Linked DNA regions of Homo sapiens. The protein of the gene in region 3 purifies or fractionates together with the protein of the main gene of each other region. This does not show direct contact. Each region holds a gene or a part of one and is shown on either strand. Other genes may lie near its edges.

What was found.
Region 1: the proteins of PPIL1 (region 3) and GPALPP1 purify together in Homo sapiens (affinity purification with mass spectrometry; 2 studies listed by BioGRID and IntAct, with this or other methods). This does not show direct contact.
Region 2: the proteins of PPIL1 (region 3) and DERA purify together in Homo sapiens (affinity purification with mass spectrometry; 2 studies listed by BioGRID and IntAct, with this or other methods). This does not show direct contact.

What each region holds. Positions count from the first base shown.
Region 1 is NC_000013.11:44,997,810-45,007,637, forward strand, and holds part of GPALPP1 (GPALPP motifs-containing protein 1), read left to right. Parts: intron 1-4,340; exon of another isoform or gene 4,341-4,638; intron 4,639-6,495; coding exon 6,496-6,628; intron 6,629-8,392; coding exon 8,393-8,494; intron 8,495-9,828.
Region 2 is NC_000012.12:15,975,414-15,985,241, reverse strand, and holds part of DERA (deoxyribose-phosphate aldolase), read right to left. Parts: intron 2,935-9,828; coding exon 2,806-2,934; intron 1-2,805. UniProt on the Homo sapiens protein: Catalyzes a reversible aldol reaction between acetaldehyde and D-glyceraldehyde 3-phosphate to generate 2-deoxy-D-ribose 5-phosphate. Participates in stress granule (SG) assembly.
Region 3 is NC_000006.12:36,870,082-36,880,896, forward strand, and holds the start of PPIL1 (peptidyl-prolyl cis-trans isomerase-like 1), read right to left. Parts: upstream 4,723-10,815; 5' UTR 4,692-4,722; coding exon 4,636-4,691; intron 1,887-4,635; exon of another isoform or gene 1,792-1,886; coding exon 1,637-1,791; intron 1-1,636. UniProt on the Homo sapiens protein: Involved in pre-mRNA splicing as component of the spliceosome. PPIases accelerate the folding of proteins. Catalyzes the cis-trans isomerization of proline imidic peptide bonds in oligopeptides. Catalyzes prolyl peptide bond isomerization in CDC40/PRP17.

The DNA.
Region 1 (9,828 bases), on a different chromosome or scaffold from region 3:
GGGTATTCTGCCAAACCCATCTAACAAAAGCCCAGCCCTGGATCAGTCCAAGTGTTTACCCCTTGTGAGCCTACAGCCAGGCTTCCTAATGCTGCTAGAAGAAACCTCACGCCTCCACAAGCTAATGCTGCTAAAAGATGGCCTGTTCCCTAACTGGGTCCATAGGTCTGTCCAGTAATCCTCACAGGCTTCACCTCCTTTCTCTTCCCCAATCTGCAACCTTGGCTTTTTAAAACTTTCCCTTTCTTTCTAAAACTTTTATTTTTCCGTCTACTTCATTGAACAAGTAGATGCCATCATAAGAGAACTTCCTCAATTTTCTGTTACTGTATCTAAAAACTATCCTAAATCCACGCCAAGCTTTTTGTCTGCCCTTTGGTAACAATAGAAGAGGTATACTGCTTCCTTCTAAAGCTAATCCTTCCATTTTTACTCTGACTCCCTTCCCTGTCCTTAGGGCTGCCTGCCCTTAGCATTTAACCAAAACATTCAAATCTTTCCCATCTTTGAAGAAAACTCTACTTCATATCCCCCTCTAGCTGCATCTTTTTCTTTCTCACTGTCTCTGGGTCTTCTATTTTCTCCTTAACCCATTGCATTTCTGCCCTCACCAGTCCACTGAGACCCTCACCAATTCAAGGCTTCCTTTTCAGTCCTAGTCTTCCTTGACCTCACAGCAACATTTGGCCCCTCTCTATCCTCTCTTGGTTCCAACCATCCTGAACACCTTTCAGTTTTCTAAATGTGATGACTCTTTTGCTTTCAGGCTTTTGCAGATGCTTTTCTTTCTGCCTGGACTACTCTTCGTCCAGTCCCCACCTTCTTTGCCCAGCTAACTCAGGTCCCACCCCTACATCACTGCTTCTAGGAAACATTCTTTGATGTTAACTACCTACTGCCTGTAAAAGATGGGTTGGGTGCCCCTTCTTTATATTTGCATGATTTAACCATGTCATGGGGTCAGCAAACTTTTCTTGTAAAGGACCAGATAGTAAATACAGTTGACCCTGTAGATCTGCAGGTTCTGAGTCTTCAGGTTCAACCAACTCTAGATTGAAAGTACAATATTCAAGGGAAGTGGAACCAAGGCCATAGCCACAGATTTTGGTAGCTGCAAACAGGGGAGTTGGTCCTGGAACCAATCTCCCGAGAATACCGAGGGACAACTGTACTTTTGACTGTAGGTCAGTAGGCAAAATCAAGATTATTGTAAAAGTATGTGTACAACAAGAAGGAAGCAAACTTCACAAAATTTTATTGTTGCAATCTAAAACATAATACCATATAATTTTTTTGTAATACAGGTCTACTAATGAGAAGAACAGAATTGGTTTTGGGGGAGTAACATTTCATTTCATCGGAGTTCAAGTTAGCATTCCTAGTCATCAGAATCAGTTGTGGATGTTCATCTGTTAATGCTGATCTGTAATGAGATTTTTATGTATTATACTGAGTTCATTTTTTTATATGCATATCACAATTCTGTGTGATATGAAAGGGAAATAAGTGAAATATAAGGAACGCGTAACTCCTGTTCTCATGGAATTTATAATCTATTTGGAAAATTATCATTGCAATAGGAGAGCCTCCTTAATGACGACAAGCATCACTGCTTTAGGAGAGATATGGAATAGTTCATTACATGTTCCCAAAATAATTTTTTGAGATTATTCATAGTTCAGAAGGATATCTATAAAAAAGTGAAGCCAGACATGTCCTTACTTTTATTAGGGGGTCTGTATTGTGGCGTATACTGACTGACACTTTTAATATTCTTCTCTTTTTTCTTGAGACAGAGTCTCACTCTGTCACCAGACTGGAGTGCAGTGGCGTGATCTTGGCTCACAGCAACCTCCGCCTCCCGGGTTCAAGTGATTCTCCTGCCTCAGCCTCCTGAGTAGCTGGGACTACAAGCATGTGCCACCACGCCCAGCTAATTTTGGTATTTTTAGTAGAGATGGGGTTTCACCATGTTGGCCAGGATGGTCTTGATCTCTTGACCTCATGATCCGCCTGCCTTGTCCTCCCAAAGTTCTGGGATTACAAGCATGAGCCACTGCGCCTGGCCCCTTTTTTCTTTTTTATATCGCCATCTCAGTATTCTATCATTTCATGATGAAATAGTTGTTTATTTTGAACAACTCAAATAGAAATTAATGGTACTATGTGCTGAATGTTACTTTTTTATACTATTTTTCCGTGATTATTTTTAAAAGGCCAGGTTTTCTTAGATGAGTTTTATCTTCATCTGCTTATTATCTTTTTAAAAAATGTATATCTCGTTTGTTTCTTTAAAAATCCATGGCAATTTTTTAGTTGTAATAGCACCAGGTGTGGTGGCTCATGCCTGTAATCCCAGTGCTTTGGGAGGCCAAGGCAGGAAGATCACTTGAGGCCAAGCGTTCAAGACCAAGCTGGACAACATAGTGAGACCCTGGTCTCAAAAAAATAAATAAAATAAAATTTAAAAATTATCTGTGCATGGTGGCAAACACCTGTAGTCCTAGCCATGCAGGAGGCCGAGATGGGAGGATCGCTTGAGGCCAGGAGTTCAAGGTTACAGTGAGCCATGATCACTGCTTTCTAACCCAGGCAACAGAGCAAGACTAAATAAATAAATGAGTGAATGAATACATAAATAAAAGGTATGTGTGTACGTTATAATACCAAGAACAGCACATATTTAGACCATATTACACATCTAATTGCTTAAAATATATAAAAGAATAATAAAATTTTTTCTTGATACAAACCTATCCAAAATTGGCCAATAGTATACAATTGATAAATTACATGGATAGCAGTCACATATAAGAAGAGAAAGAAGCAGAAGAGGAAAAAACATATCTTCCCTCTTTAATGTACTTAGAATCAAGAAGATGAAAAGAGCCAATCACTCCTGTGGGGTCACACATGAGGTTAGAGGTCACATATAGTCTCTAAATTATAAATAAATTGGGGAACACTTACATACTAAGACATTAAGTCTTCTTTAGTAAACCCTAAACAGCAGTTGGAGATAGGAATCCCATCCATGATGCTTGATGTTTTCCTTTTTGCTGTAACGCAGCATGCCTTAGAGTTATTCTTTTCTAAGGCATGTTATTACCTGTTCTATAGTAATGCACCAAGAGAGATAGGAAAAATTTTTTTGAAATAGGCCAATGATTCCAAAACTAGCCTTAGTTTCTCCCCTGAGCTTTACACTGTAATAATGTTTGGCTATGTCCCCACCCAAATCTCATCTTGAATTATAGTTTCCATAATCCCTACATGTTGTGGGAGGGACCTGGTGGGAGGTAACTGAATCATGGTGGTGGTTACCCTCATGCTGTTCTCGTGATAGTGAGTTCTCATGAGATCTGATAGTTTTATAAGGGGCTTCTCCCCCTTTCTCTCTGCACTTCTCCTTCCTCCTGCCATGTGAAGAAGGATGTGTTTGCTTCCCCTTCCACCATAATTGTACGTTTCCTGAGGCCTCCACAACCATGCTGAACTGTGGCTCAATTAAACCTCTTTCCTTTATAAATTACTCAGTCTCAGGTATTTCTTCATAGCAGCATGAGAACGGACTTACACACCCTATACACCCTAGTATGCCCAAGTACCACTGATAGCACCACCTAAATTTTTAAGGCTGTATGAAACTTAAAATGTGAAAAACAAACTCTCAACTCTCCCCTCCCAGCCTATTTTCTTCCCAGCCTTCTCCATATTAGAGAATACCATTGCCCTTCACCTGCCTAGCTAGTCAGGCACAAAACCTAAGACCTATCCTTGGTTCCTTTTTTTTTTCTTCTCACCTCTAACATCCAAACCATTAGCAGTCCTCTTTGCCCTTACATCAGAGTATGTTGCAAATCAAACCTTTTTTTTTTCTTTCTTTTTTTTAGATGGAGTCTTGCTCTGTCGCACAGGCTGGAGTGCAATGGCGTGATCTTGGCTCACTGCAACCTCCACTGCCAGAATTCAAGCAATTCACCTGCCTCAGCCTCCTGAGTAGCTGGGATTACAGACGCACACCACCATGCCCAGCTAATTTTGTATTTTTAGTAGAGACAGGGTTTCACCATGTTGCCCAGGCTGGTCCCGAACTCCTGACCTCGGGTGATCCGCCCACCTCGGCCTCCCAAAGTGCTGGGATTACAGGCGTGAGCCACCACACCTGGCCCACACCATTTTTTATCAGCTTTCTAATGCATATCCCCTGTTGCTGATCTCTCTTGTCTATTGTCCACAAGCTGACAGTTTTTTGTTTGTTTGTTTGGTAATTCATATCATGTCTGTCCTGACCCACAACCTCCCAATGACTGCCTGTTGTAATTAAAATCCAAACTCCTGCTGGATGTGGTGGTGCATGCCTGTAGTCCCAGGTACTCAGGAAGCTGAGGCAAGAGGATCGCTTGAGTCCAGGAGTTCTGGGCTGTAGTGCGCTATGCATTCTGGTATCCACACTAAGTTCAACATCAGTATGGTGACCTCCGGGAGTGAAGGACCACCAGATTGCCCTAAGGAGGGGTGAACCAGCCCAGGTCGGAAACAAAGCATGTGAAAACTCTGGTGCTGATCAGCAGTGGGATCGCACCTGTGAAAAGCCACTGCACTTCAACCTGGACAACACAGTGAGATCTCGCCTCTTAGGGAAAGGGAACAGAAAAGGGAAAGGGAAAGAGAAGTCCAAACTCCTTATTGTAGCCTGTACTAGCATTTATTGAGCACTTGCTATATGCCAAAGACTTTGTTAGGTGTTTTGCATATATTAACTGATATAATCTTCACAACAGTCCTGTGAGGTTGAAACTATTATTAACCTCATTTTACAAAGCAAGAGTGTAATAGGAAGGTTAAGTAACTTATCCAAATCACACAGCTAGTAAGTGGCCAACCTGGAATTCAAAGCACAGAGTCTGCCTCCAAAGCAAGAGTCTGGCCCCTTTATACCATCCAACTTGATGTCGTCATTTTGCTTTTCTTTAGCCACACTGGCCTTTTTATTCCTCAAGCACATCAGGCTTGCTCCCTGCATAGGAGTTGTGCACTGGCTGTTCCTCTGTCATCTCATCATTTAAGTCTCCATTCAAATGTCTTTTTCTCAGAGAGATTTTTGCCTTACCACTGTCTTTAAAATTACCCTCCCACATATACAGTGTCACCTTTTTCCTATTTTCATAGTAGCATTTACACTATCTGAATTGATCTTAATTCTTTTAATGTTTGTTTCTCTAGAAGTATTTACTTAATAACTGTTGTTGGATGGATGGTTGCTGACTATTGAGTATTGGCTAGTATAGTGGTTAAGGATATAGGCTTTGAAATCAGACTCCTGGGTTCATGTCACAGCCCCACTACTTAGTTGTATGAAGTTAGGCAAGTCACTTAACAATTCTTGGCCTCAGTTTCTCCATATGTAAAATAGAAATAATATCTCCCTTATAGGATTGTTATCAGAATTAAATAGAATAATGTGTATGTCTCTTAAAACAATTCATAACACCTAAGAACTCAAACCATGTTATTTGTTATTTATTTATTACACTTAAGTTTTTGTAGTAACAAATATTACTATTACTATAATATTGAATGAATGGCATACCCAGAATACTCTTTGGAAAATCATGTTTCCAGGCCCTCCTCCAGGCCAACTGGGTTAGAATATCTGAGAAAAGGGCCCATGAATCTTTTAAAAATACATAGATTTTAGGGAGTCTGATAAATATCCAACCTTGGGAACTATGATAGTAGGCTTTTAGCATCACTATTTAGGATCAACCTGGACAGTTGTGTCTGTGTGACATCATCAGTGACATCATGACACTGCAGTGACACCATATAGTAATTTGTAATTTTGCTGAGATGTAAAGTGAGAGCAAGTCATTCTGATAAGTGGACCTAGAAGACCCTTACCACTCTCCCTAACATCCCCATTACAGTGCAGCCTCATTCTCTTCCCTGTATCTCTGTTGGCAAGCAGTAAAACTTAGAGTGACTCTAATTTTATTTCTGCTTGGAAAATCATCTCAAAAAGAAAACTAACCAAGAAATATGGGGATGCCAGGAAAGATTTTTTTTTTTTAAGTAGTGGTTCTACCGTAAACTGTAAGAAAAAAAAAAATCATGAAGCCATTGGGGTTTTTTTTTGTTTGTTTGTTTGTTTTTTTGTTTTTTTTGGCAGGTGCACCAACCAATGCAAAAACTGCACATTATCAAGGAAATTACATGCTATTGCTATATCTATAAGTTCGGGTTTATAAGTTCAGATATTAACAAAGCTTTTGTGAATCTCATGAAAGAGATTGTGTAAGACATGATTTCTGCCTTCCTAGAGCTGGAAAGACAAAACCACTGTACACAAACAACAGCAATTGAGATTAAAGTGAATAATAAATGATAGACAGCCAGTGCTGTTTATTTCAGAAAAGAAAGTGAAAAATATCAGCTAGAAGGGTTCATTGAAACAGTAGTGGCTAGTGATGACAAACAACAAGTGTTCTTTAGTTGCAGGACCAGCTCTGCCCCCTAATTATAAAAGCAGTAGTTCAGATTCATCAGACAGCGATGAAGACAGTAGTTCTTTGTACGAAGAAGGAAATCAAGAATCTGAAGAAGATGACAGTGGTCCAACTGCAAGGTCAGTCATTTAATTAAATTAAATGATAGACCAAACTTCAGAGCTAGTATAAGTTGGCTGGAACAGATAGCTAGTAAGGGGATATCATATTTCCATTTATACAGCACAGGGAGAAATCATTTTGTGTGGCATTTCATCCTGAATTATACCTTTTACAAAGAAATTTATTCTAGTAGTTTGCAGCTATAGAGATATCTAGAATTTCAATATATATGTATATTTTTTCCTGAGACAGGGGCTCACTCTGGCGCACATGCTGGAGTGATGTGGCACGATCTTGGCTCACTGCAGCCTCTGCCTCCCAAGCTCAAGCGATCCTCCCACCTCAGTCTTCTGAGAAGCTGGAACCACAGGTGCCCGCAAATTTTTGTATTTTTTGTAGATTTTTTGGTATTTTTTGTAGAGATGGGGTTTCATCATGTTGCCCAGGCTGGTCTCAAACTCCTGGACTCAAGTGATCTGCCCGCCTCAGCCTCAGAAAGTGCTGGGATTACAAGCATGAGCCACCACACCAGCCAATAAAATTCTTACATAAATGATTTTTCTTAAGATGTCATTGAAGTGCCAAAATAGGCTACATAAACCATAGAATTTCTTATTAAAATTATATATGCAGTGTATGTTTTCTTTAAATAAACTAATGGTTTTCTTTTTTTTTTTTTTTTTTTTTTTTTTTTTTGAGATGAAGTCTCACTCTGTAGCCCAGACTGGAATCCGGTGGCACGATCTCAGCTCACTGTAGCCTCTGCCTCCTAAGTTCAAGTGGTTCTCCTGTCTCAGTCTCCCAAGTAGCTGGAACTACAGGTGTGTGCCACCATACCTGGCTAATTTTTGGATTTTTTAGTAGAGACAGGGTTTCACCATGTTGGCCAGGCTGGTCTTGAACTCCTGACCCCAAGTGATCTGCCCGCCTCGGCCTTTTAAGGTGCTGGGATTACAGGCATGAGCCACTGTGCCCAGCTGAATGATTTTCCTCTAATCTGGCCTTACCCACTATGAGTCTATGTAAATGAGAAGTCAAATCTTTGTTTATTATTGAGTAACAAGCTTTTTTGATTCATTTTAAATATTATCAGGTGGAAATAGCAACTTAAAACCCTTCCTTAGATGAGAATAAAAGTCACAGTCATAAACTTTTTACTGAGAAACATCTGACCAATAGACTTTGAAACTGCATTGAGGGGAATCTTTAATACCACAGAAAATATAGAATAGTGATATATTACTGCTGTAAAGAAATAACCAATCTGTATTTTAGGCCAAAAATAAATTCCAGGAAAAGACTAGTTACGAACTATTGTCGTAGGCCAGGTGCAGTGGCTCACGCCTGTAATCCCAGCACTTTGGAAGGCCAAGGTGGGGAGATCACTTGAGGTCAGGAGTTCGAGACCAGCCTGGCCAACATGGTGAAACCCCGTCTCTACTAAAAAATACAAAAATTAGCTGGGCGTGGTGGCGCTTCCCTGTAATCCCAGCTACTTGGGAGGCTGAGGCAGGAGAATTGCTTGAACCTAGGAGTGGGAGGTTCCAGTGAGCCAACATCACGCCACTGCACTCCAGCCTGGGCAACAAGGCAAGACTTCCTCTCAAAAAATAAAAAAAAAAAAAGAACTATCGTAGTATCCAGTTTTTATTTGGCAGGATTAATTTATTGTTGCAGTGTTTATACAACTAGATTTAATGCTTTTTTAAAAAAAATTAAAATGTGCTTTTGTGAAAAAAATTTTGACATATATGCATAAAGTTATACTACTATGTTTTCAGAAAACAGAGGAAAAATCAGGATGATGACGATGATGATGATGATGGGTTTTTTGGACCAGCCCTTCCTCCTGGATTTAAAAAGCAGGATGATTCTCCTCCAAGGTGATAATGTGTAATATTTTAGGCCAGTCTTTCTTTAAATATTTTAACTAATGAATCTTTAATGAATTAAAGAATTGTCTGAAATTATGTTTTAACTGAAATATTTATATAACATTTTGAAATGGGTCATTCACCAGGAAAAGAAGTTGTTTCCTACAATAAAAATAATTATTTACATGTTTATGACACTTTCATAGTTTACAAAAAACTTCCACATCTGTTATTTGATATTCACAAAAGTGTTTTGTGGTAAACGAGGTGGATCACCCCTCTCCCCACTTTATAAACAGATAAGGTCACACACATAGTAGCAGACCTGGAGCTAGAATCTTGATGTTGTGACTTTTAATTCAGTTGTTTTCTTAATTATTTATCAATAGAAGAAACACATCCCCATGTGCCATGTTAGACAATTGGACTAACTTCTCTGAATCTTAAATTTGTTATCTGTAAGCTAGGATAACAGCATGTACTTTACAGAATTGTGATGATTGAGGTTTCATAGTTACATACCTTGACTTTGTGTGTGGGTGTTTAATTTATATGGAGCCTGGCACAGAGTAAGTATATAGTAAATATTTATTCCTGTCTTCTTCCCAGAATTGTAAAATTTTTAAATGCCAAATATAAGATCGCACATCAAATTGTTTATAATTCATAATACTGTATACCAATATGCAAGAACAAGCAGAAAAGGCTTTTTATTTTATATTCAAAGTTTATAATCACATTTGGCAGCTCCTAACTTCCATTAACTTTAGTTGTTTCAGATATACAGGGATAGGCAATCTACAGTCCCCAAACTAAAAATGATTTTTGCATTTTTGAGAGTAGCTGAAAAAACAAAGACAGATATGCCACAGAGACCCACATGTGGCTCTCAAAGCCTAAGAGTTACTATCTAGCCCTTTATAGAAAGTTTGCTGACCCCTAGGATGTAACATTCCTTTTAAGAAAACATATTACTTAAATGTATACCAATTTTATTCTTAAGAATATTATTTTGGCAATAATAAAATGTATGTGTAAAATAAACAGCTGGCATTATATATTGGAGTTAGAAACCTTTTATAGTATCATAACATGCCATGGTTTTATTCCTTTACTATGTTTTATGATTTTATATACCAGTAATTTTATCACCACCAATCCCCTGAGGCCAGAAAGTTAAGCTATAATTGCATTTGTAGATTGCTAAAAATTGTACTCAGAAAAAACCTATGCTGTACTCATAGCTTATAAATGATACCTAATTTTATCTTTTTAACAGTGCCAAACTTCCCTGTCTTTCATAAGCAAATTGTTCTGCTCAAAGAAGTTTCATGAATCAAGAC
Region 2 (9,828 bases), on a different chromosome or scaffold from region 3:
CACTATGTGATTAGATAATGTTCTAATACTGGCAAAGCTAAGCATGGTGATAAAAGTAGAAAAGTGGTTGCAGCGGGGACAGCAGGTGAGCTGAGTGGAGGCGACTATAAAGGGACACAAAGATATTTCTAGGAGGATGGAAATGATCTGTGTCTTGAAGGGAGTAGTGGTTACAGGTGTTTGCAAACTGCCAAACTCATCACACTGTCTATCTAACACCTGAATTTTACTGAATGCAAATCTGCCTCAATGAAATTGATTTAAGAAAAAATTTTTTATACCACCACAGAAGTAGAATACAGAATTTAGTCAGAAATTTGTAAATTACTTTTGGGGAGATTAGTTTGTGCAAGTTACATATAAAATTGGGACAAGAATATAAAAAATATTTCAAAATATTTCAAGTTCATCAAAGAATACTTCAATTCTATTATATACCTTCTTAACAGAGTAGGAAGTATAAACTATAGGCCAGGAAGTATGCTACATGCTTTCATATATTATGCCTCACAAAGATTGTGTCTTTCATTCATGATAAAATCTAGTGTGTGCCTTGGGAAATAGCCATGTTACAAGTGAAAAAGCAATAAATCTGGAGCCAGAAGACCAGAGTGTTCAAATAGTGATACAGGTTATTTATTAGCTTTGTGACCTTAAACAAGTCACACAATCCTAGATTTCTTCCACTCCAGGACTGATGTGAGGACGAAGGAATATTGTTTCAATGTACCTGGTAAAGCACACCATGAATACGGTTTTATTACTCATACTAAGTGCTCAACAAACACTGCTTAAATGAAGAAATGAAGTGGATAAACAACATGAACAGAGAAACAAGCAGACAGGAAGAAATAAAGGGACATGTTTATAATCACATTTTTTTCTGTGGACAGGATGGGTGGAGGGTGGGACACAGCTTCCAAAGCGTGATGACCTAATACCACATTTGTATCATGAGTAGTAGGTGCTGTGCGTAGGACAGGGTTGGCTGACCTCCCAGAATGAATACACTTTCATTGTGACCAGGATAACAGCTGGGGTAACAGGTATCACAAGATTGGCTCCGATGTGACCCTGAGGAGTATCTCAGCTCCATGTGCACAACCAACAGCGTGGCTACCACAAAGTATGTCCTATAAGTGGCTGCTGTTATTCGTTTCCAAACTTTTACTTTGTTACCTGGGCTAACAATCACTTGTGCTGGCAAGCAGCATAAAGGGGGGCTACCTGTACACCAAGTAGCCTCCAAGGGGCTTTTCCCAGGTTCCTAAGAGGCACAGTGAGTCTTCTACTGTGAATCTTTGAAATGCCAACATCACTGATGAACAACTGTTCAAAGTGTTCCATCCCTTCTCATCCTTAGGTTTTTCTGAGATTTTGCTCTCAGATAACAACTGCAGATATTTTCTAGATACAGCAGTTGTGCCCAGAGCAACAGCACCATTGCTGACTAGTAGGCTGATTTTCAGTAGAGTTCCAAGGAATGATCTACTAGGCCTGACAGAGCACTCAAGAAGTACACAAGAATATGGCTGGCCCAGATTCAAGACCAGAGAAACCAGGTATCTTCATCCAAATATAGGGCCCCTAGAAGGACACCTAGAAATTCAACACTCAATCACAATGTCATGTGATAAGTTATATGATAGGGCTTTTACTTGAATGCCGTGGGGACACACAGAGGAGATAATGGGCCAAACAGCAGGGGGAGAAGCAGTGTCAGGGGAAATAATTCCTGAAAAAGGTGGTACCTGTGCTGAACCCCAAGATGTGGAGTTATTTGGGCAAAAGGCATTCCGGGCAGGAGGCACAGAACGTACAAAGACTCAAAAGGTTGGATGGCACCATCTGCAGAGAAGTGCAAGTAACTCTACCTGGCTGGAGAACATGGTGTGAAGGGAAAATGACACAGCAGAGGCACAGCCAGGGTCTTAGGAAGGACCTTTTTAAAATAAGAATCAAGGAATGTACACTTTACCATAAAGATGAAGGGAAACCACTGAAGGAATTTTAAGCAAGCAGTACCATAATAAAATTAGCATTAAAAAAAAATTGTGGTGACAGTGTGGAGAACAGATTGGAGGGGAACAAAAGTCAGGAAGACAGGGGAACAGCTGAAGTAATCCCTGTGGAGGAGGATGGTGGCCTAAGACAGCAGCACTTAGAATGGAGGGAAGATGTGTCAGACACAGCAAAGAGGTCTAGAGAGAACTCTCAAGGCTTCTTCACTGATTTATGTGAGGTGAGAAAAAGAAAGAACCAAGCATGACTCCTAGGCTGCAAGCTTGGATGTCTAAATGGATAGACCTGCTGTTCACAGAGATAAAGAATAAGTCAACTTATATTTGAAAGTATAAAAATCAATGATACTGCACTAAATTTTAAAACATTAACACAAACAAAAGCAGAGGCTGTCTCAGATAGTATGGATATATATCTCTGAGATAAATGAAAAGCTTAAATTCAGAGAGGAGTAAGTCAAAGAAATTCCTGTCTAACATATGTTGATGAGTGAATAATCAAAGAATAAAACAGAAGGCAATTCACTAACAAGAGAGCCATCTACTGCCTTATAAGCATAGTGCAGCAATGAAATGCCACACACACACAAAAAAAAATGTGGAAGAAAGCCAGGAGTTTTTGACCACTTCACATTGAACATGTTTTTACAAAATATCCGATTCCTCCCGCAAAAAAATTCCAAGTGGTTAGCACGTTTAATAATAGCTAAATGCTTTCACTTACTTAATTTCTCCTAAAAACATCAATTCAATAGAAAACATTATTTGAACATAAAACACTTACCTGCCATCATTGCTATCATACTGGCTTTATAGACATTAGTAAGAGTTCCAAGTTCTCCTGTCGCTAATATAGTTTTAAGATGAGCCTCCCCACAGGCCTTGCGAAACTGACGAATCTCATCATACAGGGCTGGGGAAGAAAATAATTGAGGCAGTTACAAAGCAGGCAAGTGATAACATAACTTGGCAGCCGTTTAGAGCTGGTGGAACCCATTTCACATTTAGGAAACATAAAACATTTGTCACTTTCTAAAAATCACCCCAATTTAACATTGCCTGGAGCATTCTGTTGCAGTTCACATCCTGTTACAAGGAATGCTTAGTTTGCTACCATGAAACCGTTTCTAAGCCCTGGCCTGAGGTCCAGAGACATAGAGCTTTTTAAATATCATAATGACATGCAAATTATAAATAATTTCTGTCTTGTCCATATGATGGTTGCTTCCAACAAAAAACAAATGTAGCTACCATACATACAGTGGTGTACCCCTTTGCAAAGTAATAAAAAAAAATCTTAGGTTCTTATTAATTCTTCCATTCACAAGTAATAGGTTCTTTGGTTGGATATAAAGCACACCTTTCTTGAGAGTTATGTTCATGACAATAAAGACACAGCAGCTTGCCCCACTGCCTGCCAGAGTATGTTTATATATCTGACTAAAAAGTGTTAGGCCTGGCCAGGTAGTGCTGGACGCATGTGTACAAAGCCATCTCTGCAGGGAGGCTCAGAGATGCTGCCTTAAATCTGTTAACCCCTGAGCCCATGACCCCAGTACCACATCTGGCTTTGGAGGGTTCCACATTGGGCCCAGATTTATTTCATATTTCATATTCAAGGTAACATTTTACATGAAAGGTAGCAGGATTTTAGTAAGCAAATTAGACCAAAATCATGTGTATTAAATCTTTAAAAAATTATTTAAGTCTTTTGTCAATGATACTAGTGAATTTTGGCTTTTTCAGGCCGGCCACTATCATTTCTTGAACTCAGGCTACTGCCATGGTAACAAGACCAAGGCTTTTTCTTTCCTTTGTATTTGAGTATCTTTCATAGGAAGTAGGTTTTTTTGTTTTTTGTTTTTTGGTTTTTGAGATGGAGTCTTGCTCTGTCACCCAGGCTGGAGTGCAGTGGCGTGATCTCAGCTCACTGCAACCTCCGCCTCTGGGGTTCACGCCATTCTCCTGCCTCAGCCTCCCGAGTAGCTGGGACTACAGGCGCCTGCCACCACGCCTGGGTAACTTTTTGTAGTTTTAGTAGAGACGGGGTTTCACCGTGTTAACCAGGATGGTCTCGATCTCCTGATCTGGTAATCCGCCTGCCTCAGCGTCCCAAAGTGCTGGGATTACAGGTGTGAGCCACGGTGCCCGGCCCATAGGAAGTAGTTTTATAAACATACAGAGTAAACCAAGCAGGAGGGAAACATTCATAATAAGGGTTGGGGTAAGCATTTCTTAAAGCTAAAATGAGAGTTCTATAATTCACAGGCTTAGTAAAGTACATTTAGAAAAATGAAAAATTAGTCTCAGTTAAAACCACAAGTTATAACAGCCAAATAAAGCTTGCCTTCTCAATCACAGAAAACATGAACTTGAAGCTCAGAAGTGAAAAATGAAGAGAAATGAAAGCAAATATTCTATTCCAAGATGCTCAGTAAGTTTAGAAAGTTTGTTACCACTGAGAGATGGTACCCACAGAAGGTTCAATAAAGAACAGACTATTTTCACAGATCCTTAATAACGTGCAGTTCTGAGTACTAGGGATGATCTGAGATGCCACACCACCTACCTTACCCTGCCCATCTACCTAACCTGGGAGAAAATCATCCTACTTATGCCTCCAATATGACAACCTGTGTAAGAATGTTAAAAATAGTAATAGACTATGGAGCGAAAAAAAAAATTATATTCTTTTAATTCAGAGAATGAATTGGATGGAATGACATTTCTTAAGTTATTGAATCTAAAAAAAGAAACTTGTTTTCTAAGAACAAGTGACAAGGAAAATCTTCTGATCTAAAAATCCAAGAACGCTAATCCAAGTTAACTTGTGATTTAATTAATGATTTTCTTCCACAAAATAGTGTTGTCATTAAAAGCAGGCTTTAGAGTAGGACAAATGCAGATTTAAAACCCAACTCCATCATTTCCTGTGGGACCTTAGGCAAGTTATTTCTGTCAGCATCAGCTCCATCCTTAAAGTGTCAATAATATTTACTTTACAGGGTTACCAGGAATGAGAGAGAGATATACAAAGTACTTTGCATACTGCCTGACATGTTATAAGCACTCAAAAAGTTTAATTATTAAGTTCAGAATTCTAGTAAAATGAATTTCCACTAAGTGTTGTGTTATAAAAGTCAAATCTTATTTCATGGCCTGACCCAGTTCCAGTAACCAAAGTTCTGTTGGATTACTGCTTACAATCAGTGAGCCATCAGACAAGGCTGGAAAGTATTTTATTACAGCAGTTGTTAAAGTGAACTTTGGCCTGTAAAACAAATTCTTAAAACACTGATCACGACCATATTTGTGAACAAAAAAACACCATCCTTTTTCTAGAGTACTACCTTCTGATGCCAAGTGAATTTCTTGAAGTATAGTTAAAATTAACCACGAAAACCAGAGGTATTTTATGATTCAGTCATTTGGAAGTTATACTCTTTAATCCATGATCCAAACAGAATGAACTGCAAGTGGTCACTTAGAGCATAACTGGATTTACAAATATGCAACCAATGTCTTCTCATTCTTTAACTGCCAATTTCTAAAATCATTTTACTGGCCTATTTTACCACATAACAGGATCAAGTTTTTCTGAGAAAATATCTTAATCTTTAAGGTTCAACAGGTGGAAAGTTGTCATTTCTTTCTGTTACCATTCTGCCCAAAATATATCAGAACAATTAAATCAAAAGTTATACCAAATCTGGTCTTTTTAAAATGTGACCTGGGCTCTATCAAGTGATTGCTTCTACTCAGGCCTTTGAATCTTAAAGAGTGAGGCAAAGATGAAAGAATAGTTAGATATTTTCTTTATTATTGTGGCATCAGCAATAGCAGGAGATCCAAAAGTCCAGTGTCCCAGGGGCCAGCCACCAGCCAACAGTGTGGTACCTGTGCTGGCCAGTAGGAGCAGCACCAGCAGTGGCCCTGGGCCCAAGCTCTTCCTGTGGCACAATCTGACTGTGTTCTCTGCTCCTTATTCCCTCATGGTCCTGCTTTTTTTCCAAGCAAGGCTTCCTACTTATTCAGTGAGCTTCTTTATGTCTTCCTAATATAATAAATTCCCTTTCAGCTTCACTTAATCAGAATTGGTTTTCTTCAACTCATGAATATTTACTGAAGAAGTATAGTATTGTAGACAAAAATGTGGATTCTCCTGAGTATATGGATTCACACCCCAACTTTACTACTAGTTTATTGTTTGATTTGGGTAAGTTACTTAACTCTAAACCTGTCCCATGTTCCTCATTTACAAAATGGGAATGATAGAAGTATGCACACCTCACGGAGTTATTTTCAAACAGGTTAACACACACGAATAGATAAGGACAATATCCAGCACATTGTTCATGCTCAAGGAATGTCAGTTCCTGTTTTCAAAGTTGTTGGTGGCAGCAGTGATGGTGTTCCTGTTATTATTCAGTGCTTATCAGGCTCAGATTACAGAGGGACTTACAAAAGCAGAGGACACCATGATCTATGTTCCTTGAAGAACATAAAATAAAACCTCTTTGGGCCCCTAAAAAAACAGTCTGGGGGAAACGGCTTACTATATATCACAAACAAGTTTGTTTTTAAGCTAAGAACCCATGCTACTTTGAATAGCACAGACTCTTGAGATAAGACATTTTTGCTACTTGCTAGTTGTGTAAACATTTAGGAATTATTCGATTTCTCTAAGCCTAATTACTTAGGGAGGCTCAGTTTGCTCACATATTTTTGTGATGATTAAATAATATATGTTGCTAGAATAGAACCAGGCATTTAGTAGGCAGTTAATCATTCAATACTAGCTTCCCATATTTTCCCTTATACACTTCCAGAAACCCAAAAATAACTTTAACGAACAAAAAATAGCAAGCACTGTCCTAATACTTATGAAAGCACAACTAGAATTTGCCAGTCTTACATATAAGAAAAAATAGACCACTTCACTCCAACACAAGCCATAGAAACCACAAAGAAGCATTATTAGTGTTTAGGTCGTTTTGAGGACTTTGACAGTACCATGATAGACACCTCAGAAACTAGATGAATGACATATGCTAATCAAAGTGGCTTGATGGCTGAAATGTAACCCAGTCAATCTCAAATTATGTCCTTTAACAAACTCAGCTGACACTTTCCTTTCAATACAAATAAGCCAAACAATGGAAAAACGAATGAGCAGGTTTTCCCCTATGTTGGTAGGAAAGGACAATGGTGGGGTATGGAGTTATTATAACTGCTGCTAGACCACATACACAGAGGAAATTACAAGTGAAGCAATAAGTTCAACAGATGCCCTTTCCAAAAAATTTTTCATGAGGAATAATTACTCTAAAGGATGAGAAATCCCCTACGTTTTCAAAGCCTCTTCCCTCAAAAATGCTCAGTGTTCTCCACACGCTATTTAACCATCCATCGTGAGACAATTTGCAGTTACCTCCACACTTCCCATGTGAAGCATGAGATGTAGGCTGGGTGCAGTGGCTCACGCCTATAATCCCAGCACTTTGGGAGGCTAAGGCAGGTGGATCACCTGAGGTCAGGAGTTCGAGACAAGTCTGGCCAACATGGTGAAACCCCGTCTCTACTAAAAAAATGCAAAAAATTAACCAGGCATGGTGGCAAATGCCTGTAATCCCAGCTACTCTCTGGAGGCTGAGGCAGGAGAATCACTTGAACCTGGGAGGCGAAGGTTGCAGTGAGCTGAGATTGCGCCATTGCACTCCAGCCTAGGCAATAAGAGCAAAATTCCATCTCAAAAAAGAAAGAAAGAAAAGTGAGATGTGGAGAGATAAATGACTTGCTCCAAATCTTACTGTGGGTCAGTTATAGAACAGAGAGGAGGAGTCATGTCTTCATACGTGGAATAAAACTGTATTTCCTCAAAATTTTCTGCCTCTATCCCAGCACACACACACATGCATGCACGTGTACACTCACTGCAGTTACAACATATTCCCAGGGAAATACATTGCAGTGCTTCGAGCAACAGATTCGTCAAAACTCAGAACGTAGAAGGATGTCAACTCCCTTCTAGTTCAAACTACTCACTTGACAGATGGGCATTAGAATCCTAGGACCTGGTTTTCATTCTTCTAGGGGAAAAAAGCTGCATAAAATGAAAAGTTCCAAGGTAATGCAGAAACATAAGATACTAAATTTTGTATAATACACTAAAAATGATCTCTAAATTGCTCTTTGTTCCAAGGTAATTCAGAAATATAAGATACTAAATTTTGTATAATACACTAAAAATGATCTCTAAATTGCTCTTTTAGCCCCCTGGATGGGAAGAAAACCAGGGTATGGTGCTACAGTAGAGTTCATATATTTGAATCAGGACTTCTCAGCCCTTGCTTGGCCGCTGATTAGTGGTGTTACTTGGGAAAGTTACTGAACCTCTCCAAGCTTCATTTTTCTCCTCAAGATTAGATAGGAGAGCTTTATTTTTACAGCTCAAACCCTTCTCAAATTCTGCCAATAAATATAAAAGTATTAAAACGGTTAGGAAGGTAATCAATCATTTTTCCTTCAGATCCACCTTTGATAATAAGCACACGTAAAATGATGGTAAACGTTGACTTACTCTAAAAGTTTAAGCTGTTATAATTAAGATGAAAGAGCCTCTTGTTGATTTAGAAAGATGATTCTGAACTCTATCTTTGGGAGCTCTCAACCACAGACAAGGGAGAGCAGGGATTTTCTCAGCCACACACTGCCAAGAAGGTGGAGAGAAACCTAGCCCCCATGTCACTGGGGCCTAGAGAAATTCTTGGCCTGCATGTTGCTACATCATGGCAACATGATGGAGGCGAGGTGAGGGGGACGTGCAGTCAGCTCTGGGGAAAGTGAAGGTCACCCTTACCAGCGAGGACTGAAAATTCTAGGGGTTGGGGAGGACTTGGCAAGTAGAGCCAGGAAGACAACCCGCAGGTTCTAGAGATTGTCAAACACAAAGCAATTGATAAAAAGGCAAATATTGATAAAAAAGATGAATATACTGAAGATAATGGATAATGGGAGCAAGATATCTCACTGACGGGAAGAAGGGGTATAAATATGGAAGGGGAAAGTAAGAATAAACCATGCAATGCTGGAGTGTAATAGAGGTTATAGTGTGAAGTTGTAAGTTCTAAGACAGATTTATAGACTGATATATAAATAAATAAAAATGAATGTGTGTTTCTATGTGTGTGCTGTGTATATGTGTACGTTCATGTATTTACTAGATCTGTCTGACAAGAGGGCCTAGAAACAATAACATCCCAATAGCAGTGAGTTATACCTAGCACCCAGATCTTGGTTTCTAAATACAGTTAATCAATAAAAGGAGCAAGAGCTCCTTGGAGAAATGACTGATTCCAAAGCTGGAGCAGACAAAGTCAAAGATACGCCTGAAACATCTATTACAAGAAAGCAAGGAAGCTCTCAAAGAATGATGGGAACATAAAAAGGATAGAGGAGCCAGTGTGAAGCAGGTCCCGAAACTGCCTTTGCAAAATTATGACTGAGACAGTAAAAGAGATCTAACTTAACTGACTCCACCTTGTTTCTAACCTTTAAGCTGTCCTTGTTCCTTCCTGTGCACAGGCTGAACTAATTTTGGGAGGAACTTAGTTTATAGTTCATAGTTTAAAACATAGATAATAACAGCCCTTTCCCAAAACAAACCTCCTTCTTGCCTGGGGACTAGACTGCCTTTGTAGAACTAACAAGTTAGCTCCAAGATTAGAAATTACGGCTTAAGAGTCATGCAGCTAGGGGCTGCAAGATTCTCACCCTCCCTAAACTGCTCCTAAGATCAATGCTTGAG
Region 3 (10,815 bases):
AATGCATCCATATACATTAAAAAAAAAAAAACCCAAAAACCTGAATGCTTCTGACCATAGATGATAAATCATGAGACGATTAAGAATGACAAAAAAGAACAAGACTGAGAAAAGACTCTGCTATAGAGAAAACCAAACTTGTTTAAAGGCAAACGAGCAGAAATTAGCAGAGAAGAAGCAGACTGAGAAGCAAGGGCCCTTGAAATGAGTAAGGGTTCCACCAGTTCACTAATAAACCCCATCTAAATGCCAGTAACTCCCAAATTAATACCTCCATACCAGGTCTTTCCCTGAACCCCATATTCCTATCCAACTACTTACTCATGAGCATAGTCGGCCCTCCCTACATGTGGGTTCTACATTCATGGGTTCAACTAACCGCGACTGAAAACATCTTGGGGGGAAGCATCTGTACTGAACATGTATAGAACTATTTTTCTTGTCATTACTCCCCAAACAATACAGTACAACAACTATTTACATAGTGTTTACATCTTGCCCCTACATCTATTCTCTAAACAGCAGCTAGAGTGATCCTTTTATTTATTTATTTATTTGAGAGGGAGTCTCAATCTGTTACCCAGGCTGGACTGCAGTGGTGCGATCTTGGCTCACTGCAACCTCCATCTCCTGGGTTCAAGCAATTCTTCTGCCTCAGCCTCCCGACTAAGAACCTGAGATTACAGGTGCCCACCAACCCGCCCGGCTAATTTTTGTATTTTAGTAGACAGAGCGTTTCACCATGTTGGTCAGGCTGGTCTTGAACTCCTGACCTCAAATGATCCAACTGCCTCGGGCTCCCAAAGTGCTGGGATTACAGGCGTGAGCCACCGTGCCCAGCCTAGAGTGATCCTTTTAAAGCATAGATCAGATCATGTCTTTCCTTTGCTCAAAACTCTCCAATGACTCACATCACATCTTACTCAGAATAAAACCCAGTCTCTACCATGCCCTATAAGGTATCATATCTTATGATTTCCAGCACAGGTTCCTGCCTCAGGGCCTCTGTGTTTGCTCTTCCCTCCATCCAAAATGTTCTCCCCACAGTTGCAAGGTTCACTTTCTTACTTCATTCAGATCTCTTCTCCAATAATGTCAGAGAGGAGTTCCCTGACTTTTCTACTAAAATTCCATCCCCACACCCTTTTCCTGCTTTATTGAGAGCAATAATTCTGTCTCTTTGTTTATAGGTATCTCCCTAGAGCTTAAAAAAGTATCTGACACAAAACAGGTACTCAGTATTTGTTAAATGAATGAATCGATAAAAGAACCCAGGATTTTATTATTCTCAAAATATTATAAAGTCTTTCCTTCTTATTGATCAGACTACTTGCATCACTATAATTCAGACAAATATTATTTGTTCTTAGTGAGCAGTACATGTAAGTTATGAAAAACTCTACCAAGCCTAGGAGTAAAGGTTGGTTTCTGGTCAATTCCACACATGTGTGTTTGAGGAAGGCAGGCGTTGTCACCAGAATCAACCAACACAGACCTTAGTAAGTGGAAAAGAGAGCTCTGGCTGCCTTATCACCTATTTACGACAGAGACTTCAGAAACTAATGCTGGCTTTAGAAAAAAAGACGAAAAGGAGAAAAAAAAAAGAAAACATAAACTAATGTTGGCTTAACTGTACCTGTCCCTGTTGGGTCACCTCCTTGGATCATGAAGTCTTTGATAATTCTGTGGAATTTTGTGCCATTGTAGTAACCTCGACGAGCCAACTCAGCAAAGTTCTTACAGGTCTTTGGAGCATGCTTCCAGTACAGCTCCAGCACAATGATTCCCATGCTGCAGAGGGAGAGGACAACAGCTCCAGTAAACAAAAAGGTCAGGGCAGACAGGAGTATTATGGAACTGCTCCAGGACTCTTGATTTTCAAGCTTGTAAGTCATGAAATTGTGATAACCACTGGATTTCATGCTCAGCAAAGGAAAACACCACAATGCAAGTAACATAAACACCCATTATCTTTTTTGAGTAAAACACGCAGGTGTTCTGGGTACTTCTTTTCAGCAAAATAACAAGCATGGAGAACTCAAAATTCTAATACTATACATATATACATATGTATATATATATAGCTATATCTGATTATCTGAAACCAATATAACCAACCCCTAAATTAGGAAAAAAATTCTTACACTTAATTTTTAATTTTTTAAAAAAAGAGACATTAAAATATCAGGAGTTCATATTTATTTAGAAGTTTCTGGGTGGGGGTAGGGACTGGGTAGATGGAAAATAGGAAGATGTTTAATGAATACCTTTTAAAAACTTTTGTATTTTTGATCCATGTAAATACATTACCTATTCAAAAAATTTCAATAAAAGGTACAGTTTGTGTTTGTTTGGGAGGGAGTATAACAAAGGCAAAACCTGGTAACTTTGAATCTTTGCACCTACCCAATAGGATGAGTGCTTTTTCCTCACCAGTACTACTAAAAGATAAGGAAGAGGCAAGAGAAAGGACGAGTGCCTTCCCCTCTACTCCAGCACATACCTAGACTTTAAGCTCCAAGGATGTGACAATTTTTTTTTTTTTGAGAAAGGGTCTCCTCTGTCACCCAGGTTACAGTGCAGTGGCACAATCTCAGCTTATCGCAACCTCCACCTCCCGGGCTCAAGTGATCCTCTCACCTCAGCCTCCTGAGTAGCTGGGACTACAGGCATGCATCACCAAGCTCAGCTAATTTGTTGTATTTTTTTGTAGAGATGGGGTTTCACCATGTTGCCCGGGCTTGTCTTGAACTCCTGGGCTCAAGCAATCTACCTGCCTTGGCCTCCCAAAGTGCTGGATTACAGATGTGAGCTATGGCACCTGGCCAGATGTGAGAATTGAGTCAACTCTGTATAGTCTGGATACCCAGTGCCTTGCACAGTGTAAACACTCTATAAGTATATGAGGAGTGTGCTAGAAAATAGCTAACAGCCTTTCTGCCTGAAATTCATCCAATTCATCTTTCACACTGCTCCCATTCAACACAGATTGACAGTTACTCTGTGTGTGGTACTCTTTCCCTCATGAAGCTTACATTCTGGAGGATATTTTCAAAATACAGAAAGTAGCCTTTTGGAAAGACAATCAGGAAGTACGTATACAATTCTGAAATGTGCATACCTCAGTAATTTCAACTTCCAAGTATCCTCTAGGAAAATATACAAAAGTGCCTAAGGATACAATATGTGCAAGGATGTTCATCTCAGTATTTGTCATAGCCAAAAAAAAAGGAAGCAACTTAAATGTCCTTGAAATAGGAAATGCCTAAAATATCAACTATCCATACTATGGGCAGCTACCTGAATTACTGAGTGAAAGAAAACCAAGTTACAGAAAAAACATACATACAGTATGATCATATGATCCCATTTTTTTGTTAAAAAAACATGAGAGAGGTTTATATGTACATAGAAAAAAGTCTGGACAATCATCCAACAAACTGTTGATGGTGTTTTCAGGAAGGAGGTGACTTTCACTTCTTACTCTGTATGTCTACATTGCTTGGATTTAACAATTTATTTTGTAACTTTAAAAAATACCAACAGGAGAATTCAGAAATTACAGGTTGGAGCCTGAAGATGTAGAATTTTGCCATATAAGGTGGGGAAGATGGCCAGGGAGCATGAAATGAACAGCATGAGCAAATAGAGAGAGGACTGACAGAACTCTGCTTTAGCTGAAAGCAGCAATGGGCAAGAACAGAAAGGCAGAGGACCTTGGCTGGTCCCTGGCTGTTGAGGGGAGAATGGCAGGTAGACAAGGGCCAGATGAAAAAAATCACCTTGAATGTCAGGATTAATACGTTTTTACTTTATACTGTTATAGCAGCAAGACGTTATTAAAGGTTTTTTGAGCAGGATCCCTTCCTTGTCCTACTTTGTAAAGATCACTTTGAGCTTTTTCCAAAGAGGCAATGGAATGAATAGAGCTAAAGGATCTAGCAAGGTGAGACGAGCACACCAGGCTCCAAACGAGGTTCTTCCAGTTACTAGCTGTGTGGCTTTGGTCAAGGCTTTAAGCTGTAAATTCCGGCGTTTCCTCCTGCTAATATTGAAAGGGAGAAAGTTAAATAATACCTTCATGATTTGAGTTGCTAAGATTAAACTAAATGAGATGACATACAGCGGGGCATGGCGCCAGCAGGTTGGTTACCACATCACTCTTTGATAGTGGGGAAAATGTGCTTCTTCCTGTATTTTACTGGAATTTGTTTCTACAACTGTATTACTTATCACGTAATGTTTACATGTCTGTCTCTTTCATTATACCGTAAGCTCCTAAAGGCAGGGCTGTCTGTGTTTTATCTACCTCTGTATCCTCAGAACTCATATTCCATATGCCTGGCTTGCGGACTCATTACACGTTTGTTGAATGAATGAATGAATGAATGAGCGGACTGGGGGAAGGAGGACAATCAGGCAGCTATTGCTGAGACCTCAGCACAAGACCCCGCGGAGCTTGGACGCGGGCGATGGCGGTCCCCTCTCAACCCTCTGGGGGCCGTCTCGGCCGCTGCTCCACGCCCCTCCACGTGGAGGCCGGCCTCCCGGAGGAACGCGCCAGGAACGCAGACCCGTGGTGAGGCCCGGGCTCCGCGTCTCCTCTGCCAGCCCCAGACGCCCGAACCCCCTCACCTGGTCTCCAAGTAAACGTTGGGTGGCTGCCAGGAATCTGGGGGAATTGCCGCCATAGCGAAGCCGGCGGCGGAATGCTTGTCTAGTAATTGCTACTTCCGGCGTCGATTAGCTGGGGACCCGTCGCTGCTGCACACTTCCGGTCCGTTCAACCCTTTCGATACCAGGATTTGGGTGGCCAAGACAAGGAAGAGGACGGTCCCTTCTTCCAATGCCGGGAAGCTGGGGTGGGAGACGAGAAGAAGCTGGGCTCAAGAACAGAGGAAAATGCAAACTTCATTCGCGGTGGTCTCCAAGTGGCGATACCGCGCCACTCTGGGCGATCTGATTGGTTCGTTTAGGCATGGAAGGCGGGAACAACCAGAAAAGCTGCGCTCTGGTTGGAGTTATGTCCTAATATTAAATTCGAAGAATTTCTTAGTCTCACAATTGGGCAGGGACGGGAAGGGGAGGCAGAGAATGAAAGAGGGTAGTTTAGAGATGCCAGTAAAGAATTTTTGTAAGGCGCTGTACGATGTACACAGTGCTTGCACTTTCTTATCTCATCTACTCCACAAAACAATTCTATAAGTAGATAGTATTATTACCATTTTTCAGATCTGAAAATAGACTCGGCAGTTAATACTTGTTTTTCCATAGTCATAAAGCAAATCTGAGCCTGCAGAATCCAAAGACGAGGAGTCTGAGGAGAAAAGAGAGGGAAGGGGCAGGAAGAAAATAGGAGATAAAGAAAGGAAGAGACAGGAGAAAACAGGACAAACGGATCAGAGCAAGAACAAGGCTTAACATTGGCTGGGATAGATGGTACCTGAAAGTTGTTAGGAGGGTTTGCGCAGGGCGCGAGGAACAGAAGCAAATTAGAGGAGCTATAATGTTTGGAGGGAGGACAAAAATGAAATAGAGTACCTAAACTTAACGCTGTAAATGCTTTGCACACCACTTAATAATGATGGTTGAATGTTTACCATGTGCCAGGCATCAAGCTAAGCATTTTATTGCGTATTTTCACGCTTAATCTTCAAAATCCCACAAGGTAGATATTACTATTCCCATTTTACTTTGAGGAAGCTGAGCCTTACAGATTAAATAACTTGCTTAAAGTACTACAGCTGGTGCACTTGTGCTCTTAACGACAGTTCAACTGTAATGTCCCTAATTGTCAACAAGGAATAAGGATGTACAAGGTTGTAAAGATAAACTAGACAGCTCCTTGAGAGAGGAGCTGGGCCTCCTTCATCTTTGTGCTCTTCTTGCACAGTACAGAGCACAGGGTGCTCAGCTTTGCTGAATGAATAATGAACGGAACACTACATTTTAAACTGATAAATGCTAAAGTATAATTTTTACACCTCCTGCAGTTTCAAGTTCATGCCCACCTTGTGGCCCTTGAGCTGGATGAAAAAGTCTTAATCCTTGGTCTGTTTAGTCTGTTGTTAAGTTGCCTTTCTCTGGACTTTATGTAGTTCTTTACTGTGTATCTCGGGAGTCATGTGCCATTCCCAGGCTCCAATGTCTGAATATTGAAAAGCCACCCCCAAGATCATGATCACTTTCTTCCTAAATCTTTTACTGCAGCTCCTACCAGTCACTTGGCACTGAGGAGACAGAGATGAGTCTCACACACACAGTGCCCTGCCCTAAAGAAACTCACATTCTAGGAGAGATGGGCAACTAAATACGTAGCTGTAGGAGCGTGGAATGAGGACTGTAATAAGAAGCACACAGTAGGTTGGGTGCAGTGGCTGACACCTGTAATCTGGCACTTTCGGAGGCCGAGGCGGGCAGATCATCTGAGGTCAGGAGTTCAAGACCAACCTGACCAACATGGTGAAACCCTGTCTCTACTAAAAATACAAAATAAGCTGGGCATAGTGGTGCATGCCTGTAATCCCTGCTACTTCGGAGGCTGAGGCAGGAGAATCACTTGAACACGGAAGGTGGAGGCTGCAGTGAGCAGAGATTTTGCCTTTGCACTCCACCCTGCACAACAAAAGTGAAACTCCATCTCAAAAAAAAAAAAAAAAAGAAGAAGAAGAAGAAGAAGAAGAAACACAGTTTTCCCTGAGCTCTGGTTACTCCAGAGTAGGTTTGGACAGTCAAAAATTTCCCCTGGAGTGACAGCCTGGGTTGAGATCCAGAAAATAAATTGGAGTTAGCCAGAAGCCATGAGGGGTCAAATCAAATCAAGAAATAAAATGTCTCCAATTCCTCAGAAGCCCCCCTACTAATCATTACCCATTCCTTCCTCCCAAAGGGTAGACCACTTTCTGCCTTCTAATATCATAGATTGGTTTTCCCTGTTTTTGAATTTTATATAAATGGAGTTATAAAGTACGTATTTTTTTGTGCCTGGCTTCCTTTCCTTAACAATATGTTTGTGAGATGTATTCATGTTGTATGTAGTGGCCATTTTTCATTTTTCCTTGCTGTGTAGTATTCTGTTGTACAAACATACCACAATGTATAATGGTGCTGCGATGGATATTTTGTGTATGTATCTTAGTGCACTTGTGCATGAATTTTTGGGAGTATATACCTAGAAGCAGAATTGCTGTGTCATAGGTAACATGTATAATTTAGTAGTTAACACTAGACTGTTGCAAAGTGGCTGTAGCAATTTTTTGTTTTTTTTTGAGACACAATCTCACTCTGTCGCCAGGCTGGAGTGCAGTGGCACAATCTCAGCTCACTGTAACCTCCACCTCGTGGGTTCAAGCGATTCTCCTGCCTCAGCCTCCCGAGTAGCTGGGACTACAGGCGCATGCCACCACACCCAGCTAATTTTTGTATTTTTAATAGAGACAGGGTTTCACCATGTTGGCCAGGATGGTCTCAATCTCTTGACCTTGTGATCTGCCCACCTTGGCCTCCCAAAGTGCTGGGATTACAGGCATGAGCCACCACGCCTGGCCAGTGGCTGTAGCAATTTATGTATGCACCAGCAGCCTGTGAGAATTGCTGTTGCTCTGCTTCCAAGCCAACTCTTAGTATTGCTAGTCTTTTTCATTTAAGGAATCCTGAAGCCTCTATAACAATATCTCAGTAGTAATTTCACTAACAACTAATGACTAATGAAGTTGAATTCTTTTTCCATATGTGTGCCATTTAGATATCCTCTTTGTGATACCTTTTTGTGTTCAAATCTTCTACCTATTTTTCTATTTGGCTGTTTTCTTATTTGTAAAGTTCCTTATATATCCTGGACAGAATATAACACTGGAAAGTTTCTAATTTTAATGTAGTCCAACATATGCATTTTCTCTCTTACAGAACATGTCAGTGTTGGACAGACATTATTGGACATCTCAATATTGCAGCTCTATAATTCTGTTTTGTTTTTATCATATAGATCTGCAATGCATCTAGAACTTATCTTGGTGTATGGTATGAGGTAGGAGCCAAGTTTCATTTTTTTCTATATGGATATACAATTGACCCAGCACCATTGATTGAAAGCATTATCTTTTCCTCACTCCTCTGTTTCACCTCTTTGTCATAAATCAAGTGTCCATATATGTGTTTTCTGGTTTTGGTCTCTCTATTCTGTTTCATTGGTTTCATACATTTATGTCACTGTCACACTACCTCTGTAGCTATAGCATTAGTCTGAACCCAGTAGTATTTTGTTTGCAGATTTCTTGTAGAAAGCAGTTAAGAGATTTGGCGCTACACACAGGGCAGGTTAAGGAGTCTGGGTTCAAATGCTGATCCTTCCATTCCTTATCTGTAAAATCTTGAGCAAGTTAACCTCTCCATAAACTTCAGTTTTGTTTGTATGAGGATGTTATGGGGCTATTTATGCCATAGGGTTGATGAAGTGGCTCCATGAATTGAAAGTGCTTAGTACAGTCTGTCACAGTGTTAAAGCAAACTAAATATGGCCTGAGAAGGGCTTTGTACTTCTATATTTGAGTCCTTGTGGATGAACTATAACCTAGCTTTATAGTCAGACAAATTTGAAAACTTAACTTAATAGTATATACCTGTAACAATAGCTGAATGTTGGCCAATCCCAGCGGCCATACTTCAACAACTCATAGACTGCCGAATGTTCAAATTGCATTCAAATAAGGCAAACACTGAGCTTTAACCAATCTCGCTGTTTCTGTACCTCACTTCCTATTGCTGTACGTTAGTTTACCTTTTTGTCTATAAATTTGTTCTGATCACGAGTCACCCCTGGAGTCTCTGTGAATCTGCTGTGATTCTGGGAGTTGCCCGATTTGCGAATCATTCATTGCTCAATTAAACTCCTTCAAACTTAATTCAGCCAAAGTTTTTCTTTTATCAGATGGTGTCAGGAATGGGATCTAAAGTGGAGCTTCTAGCGACCCCCAGGAGCACTGAGTGAACATGCAAGGTACCTGCAGGATCCACTTGTGTCTATTGATCTCTCACAGCAGCTGGGGATCACAGGTAAGCTCCCTCTCGGATCTCTCTTTCCTTTCCCTTTTTTATCTTTTCTATTACTCAGGGCAACCAGCTTGCCCAGAGATCACGTGTTGAAACCCCTAGTCAGACATTGGATTAAAGATAACGGGGCCCATCTGAGGGCAAATATAAACCTTGCCAGTTTGATATTGAGTGCTAAGCAGAGTGGCTAATGTCTGTGTTTTATCACATGTATTTTGCTCTGGCCGGAACAACAACAAAAAATTTTTCCTTTATGATGCGGCTTGGCCCCCAGTGTGATGGTGTGGCAAGCTGGGTCACTGGGGCCGCTGAGGGAAAGGGAACCCAGAAGGCTGGCATGCCAGCAAAAGAGTAAGAATTTCTTACCAGTCAGATTTTTGGCTTCTCTCTCTCTGTGCAAATGGTTGAATGAATGGTAAAAATCACTGTTTATTTATCTCTTCTCTAAGGTTTTGATTAATGCAAAAAAAATTCTGAGGTTAGTCTTAAACTGATGTATTTGTGCTATGAATTCGTTTTTCTGGGTCAAGGGGTACCTTAGGATAAAACACGGGCTTAGGACCCCACAAGCTCGCTGGTCAATAACAAACTTTCCTGCAGGTCCCTGAAACACAAAAAAAAAACTGGATGGGGTCTCCATCTTGTTTTATGTCCTTGGGAACTTGACCTCGTAACCACGTGGCAGTACTTTCTCTTGGTCTCCACCTTCTAGGGAACAGGGATTTTAGGGTTTATGCCATAGTTAGCTCTAAAAATTATCCTGAGTCATTAAAAGCCTCTGCAAGCTCAAAATTAACTACTCTAGACTCCTTCTGGGAAGGGCAGTAGACTGCTCTGTGCTGTGGCTCACTGGCCTTTCACACTGGCGGTTCCAGTTCCATTCCCTGCTTAGGAAGTAAGTCATTTCTGATTTAATATCTGCATAACCTTCTCTAGTCTCTTCTCCTCCACAGACTATCTTAAATTTTCCTTCCTCGAGCACCTAGGAAGTTACCTTTGGTAAAGTTCAAAAGCCAGAAATATCAGCCATTTGGCCTGGGTAAAATCAGTAATAAGAAATTTAAAAGGACTTTATTAAAGAGTGCTATGCTTAAAAGTCAGGTTAATTAAAAAATGAATATTCAGGCTCTAATGGCCTGGAATCCATGGGAAAAACAGGAGGCACCAGAAACCCTTTTCCTGGCCCTGTTCCTCCAAGGACTCCACCATAAAGCCAATAACCAATTAAGAAACTTAAAAACTGGCAAAAGAAAAATCTTACAACTACTATAGTAATCTTCTTCTGCCTGTCTGTCTAATTATATATGTATTGTGTGTAATGTTTATATAAAAGAGCTCAAATTAATTGGCTTAAACAAAAATAAGCACTTAAATATTTTGAAAGCAAAATAAAAACTGTAATGCCTCTTGGTTCATGTAACTTTAGTAATCTTTGGGAAATAAAAACAACTTTAAATATTATTGATAAAGACATTTTGTCTAAATTATGCAGGTCAGATATTAGCTTTGCTATATGCTTCAAGGTCATAAACTGCTTTGACTTTTGAAAATTGTTCAATTTATTTTGGAGACATTAAATTCTAAATAAGGCCTGGGGATATATGGAATTAGCCATGCCCCCTAGCTATACAAAGGCTATAAAGAAAATAGATTTCATTAAGAAAGGATGTTGTATGGTAAATTCTTGTCCTAAAGTAAAATGACTGGTTGTTTAAAAAGAGGGATGTTTAGGGCAAGTCAGAAAGTCTAAACATGTCACACATAGTC